Linked DNA regions of Homo sapiens: region 1 is linked to region 2. The links come from fine-mapping of genetic effects on gene expression. A gene starts in region 2. The other region holds a variant in brackets. All regions are shown on one strand. Distances are from middle to middle.

Evidence for each region. PIP is the estimated chance that this variant, and not a neighbour inherited with it, causes the effect. A credible set is the group of variants that fine-mapping cannot tell apart.
Region 1: its variant is the best candidate, but not a certain one, in a credible set for the expression of ZNF619 in whole blood (TOPMed, PIP 0.53).

Annotation. Positions count from the first base shown.
Region 1 is chr3:40,420,188-40,425,403 of GRCh38, reverse strand. It overlaps ENTPD3 (ectonucleoside triphosphate diphosphohydrolase 3), which reads right to left. Exons shown (of 11, transcript NM_001248.4): 8 at 2,282-2,554; 9 at 2,003-2,113; 10 at 1,441-1,578. All of the region lies in intron 2 of ENTPD3-AS1 (ENTPD3, EIF1B and MYRIP antisense RNA 1), which reads left to right. Among named protein-coding and RNA genes, the nearest start is that of ENTPD3-AS1, 31 kb to the left of the region's middle. The variant A/C (reference allele first, on the strand shown) is at 3,118.
Region 2 is chr3:40,474,020-40,479,526 of GRCh38, reverse strand. It overlaps ZNF619 (zinc finger protein 619), which reads right to left and starts at 2,405. Exons shown (of 5, transcript NM_001145093.4): 1 at 2,170-2,405; 2 at 1,524-1,609. The coding sequence starts at 1,547. RefSeq lists an enhancer at 2,092-2,231.

The sequences.
Region 1 (5,216 bases), 54 kb after region 2:
GCTGTTGTTGCCCAGGCTGGAGTGCAATGGCGTGATCTCGGCTCACGGCAACCTTCACCTCCCAGGTGCAAGTGATTCTCCTGCCTCAGCCTCTGAGTAGCTGGGATTACAGGCATGCACCAACATGCCCAGCTAATTTCGTATTTTTAGTAGAGACAGGGTTTCTCCATGTTGGTCAGGCTGGTCTCAAACTCCTGACCTCAGGTGATCCGCCTGCCTCGGCCTCCCAAAGCGCTGGGATTACAGGTGTGAGCCACCGTGCCCAGCCTACATCTTCACATTTAAATACTAATTTGGCTGGACACAAAATTCTTTATAATTAAAAAAAGGGAACTTTTAACTTAGAATATTATGTCAACTCAAACTGGCATTCAAATGGAAAGTCATTCTCCATTCTTATAATATACTTTACTGGTAATTAGATTTATTAGAAGCAAAGCTTAGAGAGTACATGCTACCAACAGTCCTTATGTCTCCAGACATCCTTATTTTTTTGTAGATGACTCAATTTTATTTATGTAAAAGTAGATAGTCAGAGGCCTAATGCAGGATATTGATTGGTTTAATCTAATTATTGCTGAAGCTGGTATTGAACAGGCTGACTCCAGACATCCTTCAGGCTTCATATCAGCTATTCCTGAAATGAGAAAATTCTCTGGAACCTGGGGAACATAGTGCTGGCTGAACATATTCACAAGGCTTAGCCCTGCCTAAAAACAAGGTATGGAGGTCCTTTCACCTGTCACCAGGTGACAGCTGTGATTCCAGCTTTGGACCATTCTGGTCACTTGACCATCATATATATATATGTATGTATTTATAGATATCTATAAATATACATATTTTTAAATATATTAAACCCTGAGCTAAGAATATCTTCCCCATCCCCCAAATCTTTGTCAGTAAATATAATGACTTCAGGTTCATTCAAAGAGAAAATATTTATTTAATGCTAATGCAAATCCATCAGGCCCTAAGGCCTGTATCTTACTCTGATATCTGAATAAAATGGAGAAGAATTAGTTACTATCCTCTTTAAAAAACTGTTACATTTAAAGCTTCTTTTCAGGATGAAAAGTCTCATATCCTTAACATATTTATTTATGAATTCAACCAACATTTACTAAGTACCTTCTAGGCTCTATTCCTTGTGCAGAGTGCTGGGAATATGAAGATACCAAGACAGGTCTCTGCCCTCCAGGACCGCCTAGTCCATTGGCCCTTGGCTTCCAGTCTTTTCCAGGAGAATGTATACCCATGAGCAACTCTTCTAAATTCTCCATGACCTCTTCTGGGAAACTCACAAGGGATCAGTCTGATCAGCTTCCACCCAGTGAGTTTAACTCATTAATACCCTTTTACCTTCTACATTTGTTCCACACACACATACAAACCTCTCTGTTGGGAAGAAGAAGAGAAAATGATTTGTGCTTAACTTACTTCTTTTTCAAAGTGTATTTGGGGCCAAGTCTCCTCTGTGAATTTGTAACCGTTCACAAACAAGTGGTAGATGTAGTTGGCTGAGAAGCAGTAAGAGCGGGCATATACCTCATCAAATTTGGGGAGCAGCAGTGGGAGCTGAAAGGTTTAAAACATCTGAGAGGCAGGGCAGGCAGGTATGTTTTAAAATGAACACCTTGGGTTAAAAGTCATGTTTTAAAGAATCTTATCACCCATAATTTCATAATAGAAAATACTTTATAATACAATCATATAATCACACAATATAATTATGAAAATATCCCTATATAATATCACAATATACTAATCTTTAAACTCATTGAGTGCTTATTATATGCCAAATATTGTTCTAACCATTGTGCATGTAGTTATAACATTAATTCACACCACAGGTGTGGGAGTAGATTCCCTTATTCCTTTTATTTTACAGATGTGATGGAAATAGAAGAGCATAAAGGCTAAATTCAGAATACACACACATAGAATAGATTCTACCATATTTTTTTGTACTGACATTGATCCCTTCTCTTTAAATACTGACCTGACTCCAATTCTGTGAGCAGAAATTCCAGGTGCTGGAGTTGAAGGTGTCCAGGGAAAAGCTACCTGAAAGATTTAAAGCACTGGCTGTGTAGTAGAATCCTGCAAAAGCCTGGAAATAAGTAATACAGAAGAAAATTAGTTCTCAGAATGGGGTATAATAGAAAGGTTTATGGGTGAGGAATAAGAAGGTGGCTAACAAGTCAGCAGAGGAGAAACAGAAAAGTGAGAAATGAATATTCAATGGGGAAAGGAATCTTTCAGAAGGTTTTGCTCTTACCACAAATGGCCCTTTAATCTTTGGCTGATAAACCCCATCAAAAGAACAGGTTTCTTGATCATGGCAAGCTTTGAAGTCAAATATGGAAGCCACCTTCTCCTTACACAGAGATGGGTCCCCAGTTCCTTCAAAAGTGATGACATCATTGGGGTTATAACTTTCTGGCCTCTGGTCCACAGTGCACAGGCTATCAAATACATGGCCCATGGTGAAGCTGATGCTATAATCCCGAGGGTAACAGGGATTGGTGAGATGGTTTTTGGTAGGAGAATTCTGTAGGTATAAGAGTAAGGTGTTAGACACGTATGTTTATTGCGGCACTATTCACAATAGCAAAGACTTGGAATCAACCCAAATGTCCAATAGTGATAGACTGGATTAAGAAAATATGGCACATATACACCATGGAATACTATGAAGCCATAAAACATGATGAGTTCATGTCCTTTGTAGGGACATGGATGAAATTGAAAATCATCATTCTCAGTAAACTATCGCAAGGACAAAAAACCAAACACCACATGTTCTCACTCATAGATGGGAATTGAACAATGAGAACACATGGACACAGGAAGGGGAACATCACACTCTGGGGACTGTTGTGGGGTGGGGGGAGGGGGGAAGGATAGCATTAGGAGATATACCTAATGCTAAATGACGAGTTAATGGGTGCAGCACACCAGCATGGTACATGTATACATATGTAACTAACCTGCACATTGTGCACATGTACCCTAAAACTTAAAGTATAATAATAATAATAATAATAAAATCTCTAAGTAAAAAAAAAAAAAAAAGAGTAAGGTATTAGAAACCACTTTTTTTGTGGAGAGCCA[A/C]GTATTTCCCTTTTGCAAATTCTATCACTACCCTCCAATGCCAAGAGAGAAACAAAAAATACCATTCTGTGTCAGCATGTCTTTGATCACAGGTTGTCTAGATAATTCAAGTAGGGGTGGGAAAAGGGTGTGTGTGTGTGTGTGTGTGTGTGACAATTACCTCGTACCAGGCATAGCGCTAGGCTCTCTCTCACATTATCTGATCCAGCTCTTATGATAGCCCTATGAACCAGGTTTTATGAACTTCACTTGGTGAGAAAATGGATATATATAATGTATCATTTTAAGTAGAATATCACCCATCCATCTAGCAAAATAATCCAAAAGGTACAAATAAACATATGAAAGTGAAGTCTCCTTCTCATCCACTTGCAGCCATCAGGCCTTTTTCTGGAAACAATCACTATTGCCAGTTTTTGTGTATCCTTCCAAAGATCTGGCATGCACATGCAAATATATATATTTTCTCCCATGCTTTTCTTTTTTTAAAGCCATAAATGGTAGCACTTTATATACCCCATTCTACCCGTTGCTTTTCTCACTTAAAATTATATATCTTTGAGATCTTTCCATTCATTGTACTTATACAGTGGCCTATTTTTTTAGTAGCTGCATAGTATTCCACTGTACAAATAAACCATACTTTATTTAAGGAATATCATCTAGATGAACATTGAGGTGGTTCCCAATCATTTTGCCATTACAAACAAATATCCTTGTCACATATAAATCTTTTATCCATTGAAATTTATTTGATTTAAAGACTCAGAGACTTGGCTTTACTTTTTCCATATGACTATTCAATCTTTAATCTACTGGTGCAAAATACTCTATTTTATGCTAAAGTCCTGAATGTTGTTGATTCAATTTATGAACTCTCTTTTCTAAGGAATTGGATTTGAACTATGTTCAACTTAAGCCACTAAGGCATACTGCTTCCCCTACAGTAAAATCTTTTCTTTTGGCTGGGTGTGATGGCTCACATCTGTAATCCCAGCACTTTAGGAGGCTGAGGCAGGCAGATCATTTGAGGTCAGGAGTTTGAGACCAGCCTGGGCAACATGGTGAAACCCCGTCTTTCCTAAAAATACAAAAATTAGCCAGGCGTGGTGGCACGCACCTGTAGTCCCAGCTACTCAGGAGGCTGAGGCAGGAGAACCACTTGAACCCGGGAGGCGGAGGTTGCAGCAAACCGAGATTGCACCATTACACTCCAGCCTGGGTGACAAAGCAAGACTCCGTCTCAAAAAAAAAAAAAAAATTTAAATTAATTAATTATTATTATTTTTTGTTTTGTAGAGGTGGGGTCTCCCTGTGTTACCCAGGTTGGTCTCAAACTCCTGGGCACAAGAGATTCTCCTGCCTTAGCCTCCCAAAGTGCTAGGATTACAGGTGTGAGCCACTGCACCTGGCCACCCTACAGTAAAATCTTGACTCAGACATTTAGCCCAACCCTTTCATTTTACTGATGAGGAAACTGAGGTACATATTCAAGTAATGCAATTATTTAACAAAGGTCAGTGACAAGATTCTGCAAAAATCCTATAAAAGCTTAATATTCATCAAATATAACCCAAATGAGTGTTTTCCAGAAAAATCTTCATATGACTGAGAAGGAGGCAAACAGGCCCCTTTCTGCCTCTATGGTATGAAAAAAATCTATGATTTTCAAAAATTGTTACATATAATCTATAGCATATCATACTTGGGTCACCCTATGGCTGAAATATTGGTTGAAAGAAAAAATATGCGGGGCGTGGTGGCTCACACGTGTAATTCCAGCACTTTGGGAGGCCAAGGCGGGCGGATCACGAGGTCAGGAGATCGAGGCCATCCTGGCTAACACAGTGAAACCCCATCTCTACTAAAAAAAAATAGAAAAAATTAGCTGGGCATGGTGGCGGGCACCTGTAGTCCCAGCTACTCGGGAGGCTGAGGTAGGAGAATGGCGTGAACCCGAGAGGCAGAGCTTGCAGTGAGCCAAGATCACACCACTGCACTCCAGCCTGGGTGACAGAGCAAGACTCCATCTCCAAAAAAAAAAAGAAAAAAAGAAAAAAGAAAAAAAAATCAAACTAATCAATTGGCTATTTAGTATC
Region 2 (5,507 bases):
AATGGCATTAAGTTATTATCTGTAACGCACGAAGATATCACCTGGCACATGATATCATCTAAATCTCAGCACTTACTACAACCACAGATGAGATTGGGGGAACTTCCTAGAAGATTCTAAATGACAAATGTTCCTCTTAGAGATTGTAGCAAAGACTGACAGGTGTGTGTGTACCCCCTTTCTTTCTTAGTATTGGAATCCTAATTTTACTTGAGGTTGCACTCAACCCGGGCAACCAAGTGGGGCCAATGAAATGCAAGTATAAATATTGTTGGGGACTTATGGGAAGGTTCCTAAAAGAGAGAGGTTCATCTTTTTTTGGGCAGCTCCTCTTCTAGCTGGAATGCACACATGATGGCTAGAGATCAAGCAGCCACCTTGGACAATAAAGTGGCCTAGAGCAGGTGAGACACTGCTAGGATGGTAGAGCAGAAAGACAGAGCCTGAGAGCATAATAGGGGAGCTGCCACACTAGCCCTGTATTGACTCTTGATACTTTTGTATGAGAGAGAAGCCTTTACCTCGTTTAATCCACTGTCATTTGGGGTCCTCTTTGGGGAATCTAATCCTAAGTGATTTCTGTACTTCAGGCAAAGCACCAGGAGAGCACAGCATACCCCCACAGCACACTTCCTGACTTGTAGGAATGAATTTTTGCTGAAGTTCTCGAACAGAAGTGGATGGTCCAATATCCACCAAAAGGACACACACATTGTTTTTAAGTCCTTGGGATGGAGCTTTCTCATTACAAGATACATCCATTACATGATAAACTCAGCTTTCTCATTCCATGATCTAGGACACTGGAGAAAAATCCAGTAAAACCATCATCTACCACCAAGAAAACTGGAGGGAAAAGTCCTCCCAATGCTACATGAATTTGTAGCCAAGAAAGGATATAGACTCTCACAGAGGTTAGACTGACGTCTTCGCATTGAGCTAAAGGCACTGGCTTCAGCTCCAAACTCATCATTCCTCCAAAAATACATCTCCCTCATCAATCTACATTTTCCACATGTTTCCAGTTCTGGCTTCACTGTACCTTAACTGAGTGGTCTGCAGGGTAAACTCCTCCCTTGGAAGTGTCTATTTAACCTCAGAAATGGCTTTTCTTTGTGTACTGTGAACGCAGACTAGCACTCCTCAAATTTTAATCTGCCCTTTAATTTTCCAGATCTTGTAAAAATGTAGATTCTGATTTAGGAGATCTGGGGAGGGGGCCTGACATTTTGCCTAACAAGAGCCCTCTGTAATGCAAAAGCTGCTCATCTCCAGGCCACACTTTCAGTTCTCATGAATGCAGATTCCCACTTTCTAGGATAATTCATTCCTTCTTTTCCAACCTACCTGACTCTCCCAAATTCACCTACTCTCGTTCGTCAACTCCCCTCGCATACTGTTTTTACATACTTTATTGAAGGATGTAAAACTAAGCATGAGACTGGCCAAGTCAGGCTACTGGGGCTGTACTGACCTTCCATATCTGTTCTGAGTATGGAAAGCTGAAAGAAAGCTCTGCTCACCTGGAACCACACTGTCTGGAGCATGGCTGATGACCCCTGGCTTCATGCACTGCCCTCTAGGTTTGAAAAAGTAAGAACCTGCGGAGCTAAGAGAGAACCACAATGAGACTGATCTGTCTCGTCTCCTACACTTGCCGCCTCTTCCCCTCTGTCTCCTGCCACTAGCATTGCAGATATTCTTGGCACACTAGCTGCTGTCATTCACCCTCTCCACTGATTCATGGGATGTTGCAAATGCTCCCTCTGCATATTCTCCTATAGATCTGCTTGGTGACACTGGAAACTCTAGAAAGAATATCTGTAAAGTAAGAGTCAAGAACTGCAGTGGATTCGTGGCTGTTTTTTAAAAAAAATTCTTGGCCCCACTATGAATGCATTACTAAACAGTTTGTATTGAATGCTTCTAGTGTTCATGGCAAAAACCCAAAACAAGTCTCTGGAGAGAAAGTAGGATATAACGGGGACCCCTAAACAAACCACAGGCTGCAGGACAAAATATAAGTGGTGACCCAGCCCCGGGTGACAAGGGTAAGACGCTTAATGTCCCAGCGGGTGATGCTGACCGAAGACCTAACCGGGATCTGAACGCTCCACCCTGGGAAGCAGGAGACCCTATAGTCACGGCTCCCATCCTCCCCATGAATACCGCGACCCGAGGACATCAGGCCAGCTCCTCGGAGCAGGAAGGTCGAGGGCGTCTCTGAAGACTGGGGACTGGGCCCAGGCTCTGGCGGCGGCGCGGGCCCCTCGGCGACCTCTGCAAGGGCCCAAAGCCTGACCTCCAGAACAGGTAGCCGAGTCAGGGAAGCCCGGGAAACTCAACCCGAGCGCTCGCAAGGTGGCCAAGACGGAAGCATTAGCTGGCCGGCCGTCGGTCCCTACAGCCTCTCTAGGAAGCCGGGAGGCTGGCCCTTCTCTATGGTTCCCACGAAACGAAACTCCAACCCTTCGCTTCCCTTCTCCACAACCGCTCTGCGCCTGGTTTGTTTGTTTTTTAATTTTAATTTTTTCGTGTGTTTTTTGAAACGGGGGTCTCGCTATGTTGCGCAGGCTGTTCTCGAACTCCTGAGCTCAAGCTGTCCGCCCGCCTCGGCCTCCCAAAGTGCTGGGAATACAGGCGTGAGCCACCGCGCCCGGCCGCTCCTGTTTTTCTTTATTATTTTCTCTTATGTCTTAGTACCCCAACTACATGATAAATTCCTCCATATTTAACAATTTGTAACTTAATTAACTGAATTCCTAATTCCTTACCTAATTACTTAATTCCTAACTTAACCTTCTAATGAATTTATAGCCCCTGTCTCCCACTGAATGACTGTGACCTAAGACCATGGGGTATGGTGTCTCATTGTCTGCGTTCCTGGCTCCACTCTATATGGACTTGCTCAAGTTATACTTAAATCGTTGCCTCAATTTATCAGTTGAGAATGGTAAAAGTTTGTAATTTATAAATTCAGTGAATTAACTGAGTCAATTCATGCAACAGTTTTGTAAACCAAAAATAAAATTCTAAGTCCCCCAACCAACTGAATGGACCACTTCTCTCAGCCAAAACATTCCAAAGAAAACCTGGCAATCTAGTTCAGGCCATGATGGGAAGCAGGGGATCGGACTTGCCTCGTTATGCCCTTGGAATTCAGGCACTACGGACCAGCATTAACATTAAAACAGAGATCTTGAGACTGACTAAAACTTTTTTTTTTTTTTTCCGAGATGGAGTCTTACTCTGTAGCCCAGGCTGGAGTACAGTTTCCCGATCTCGGCTCACTGCAACCTCCGCCTCCCGGGTTCAAGCAATTCTCCTGCCTCAGCCTCCTGAGTAGCTGGGATTACAGGAACGTGCCAACACGCCCGGCTAATTTTTGTATTCTTAGTAGAGACGGGATTTCACCATGTTGACCAGGCTGGTCTTGAACTAGACCTCGTGATCGCCCGCCTCGGCCTCCCAAAGTGCTGGGATTACAGGCGTGAGCCACCACGCCCAGCCCAAAACAAACTCTTTATAGCAATAAGACATCAAATTCTAACCTGACTCTAGTATAGTCTCATGTGACAGATAACAGGCCCTGAAATAAACTGAAGTATTTTACCCTAAAATGTATTTCTTTGACATATTTTGAAATGACCCTGTAAAGCTGTCTTTTGTGAAGAAAATCTACATCCTGTAAAGAATCCCCTTCACTTTCAAAGTGTTTTCCTTGATCCAGTAGAGAATTAACTAAGAGTTTGGCACCTTTTGAAGTCTGGTAAGAAACATTTACAATCGTTTCTCTCTGAAGCCTGCTACCTGGAGGTTTCATCTGCATAATAAGAACATTGGTCTCCAAAACCCCTTATCTTAACTCAGACATTCCCTTCAATTGATTCCAGGTCTTTAGCTAATAACTTTTTTTTTTTTTTTTTTTTTTTGAGACAGAGTCTTGCTCTGTCGCCCAGGCTGCAGTGCAGTGGCGCGATCTCGGCTCACTGCAAGCTCTGCCTCCCGGGCTCATGCCATTCTCCTGCCTCAGCCTCCTGAGTAGCTGGAACTACAGGCGCCCGCCACCATGCCCAGCTAATTTTTTGTATTTTTAGTAGAGACGGGGTTTCACCGTGTTAGCCAGGATGGTCTCGATCTCCTGACCTCGTGATCCGCCCGCCTCGGCCTCCCAAAGTGCTGGGATTACAGGCGTGAGCCACCGTGCCCAGTCCATAACTCTTTCAACTAATTGCCAGTTAGAAATCTTCAAAAGAAAAGAAAGGAAAGGAAAGGAAAGGAAAGGAAAGGAAAGGAAAAAGGAAAGGAAAGGAAAGGAAATCTTTGAATCCACCTACGCCCTGGAAGGTGCCCCCACACTCCCCACTTCGAGTTGTCCCTCCTTTCCGGATGGAGCTAATGTACATCCTACATTTATTGATTGATATCTTATATCTTCCTAAAACATGTAAAACCAAGCTGTAGCCCGACCACCTTGAGCACAAGATCTCAGGACCCCCTGGGGCTGTGTCGTGGGTCACTGGTCCTCATATTTAGTTTAGAATAAATCTCTTTAAATATTTTACTGAGTTTGACTCTTTTTATGGACAGAGTCCAGTTCTGTACTGAACTAAGTCAAAATAAGTGCTATATTATTGCTGACATTATTATTATTCGTGCGTATCTCACCACTCTCCTGTAAGACACTCCCGTATCTCTTTCTGCAGTCCAGATTTAATAACACTCATGGCAATAGTGCTTCCTATTGGCCAGGCAGTGTGCAGATAGCTTGGAGTTAGAGGTCTGGGTTTGAAACTGCCTGTTGATTTCTAATTATTCTACAAAAGCCTAAAATTCAAAATGTTCCAAACTAATCTCATCATCCTTCCCTCATCCCCCTGTTCCTCCTCCAGGGTTCCCCCACCTCAGTGAATGCACCAGTTTGCATCCAACCAAGAAACTCATTACACTACTGAACTCCAGCCTGGGCAACAGAGTGAGACCATGTCTATAGAAGGTATATATACAGTTTCATATTATTTAGGAAAGCATAACTTAGGGCCAAAATGTCCTATAAAGGTATGAAAATTTCACCTGTTATAAGTCATTCTGGACCCAACACCTTTTTATATTTGACAACTTTTCCGTCTCTTGTGTGGTTATTAGTCCATTCAGGTTTTTAATGCCTTTAACCAATTTTGGTACTTTCTTCCATAGAAAATAATTTGGCATAGGCTGTCAAATTTACTGATACAAAATCATCTTACTTTTTATATGTCCATGTCTGAAGGGATTTGTCCCTTTTCTTGTATCAATTACTGTTTACCTATACTTTTTCTCTTTTATTGAATTTTTCACAGAACCAACTTTTAGTTTTTTCATATTTCATTGCTTTTTCTATATCATTGATTTTTAGTATCATTTTTCTTTTTCATGAACACGTCTAATACCATATCGTGTTTCATTTTATCATTATTGATTTATTTCTTAAAATCTGAAAGACGTATATTCTTTTTCTAGTTTTTGAA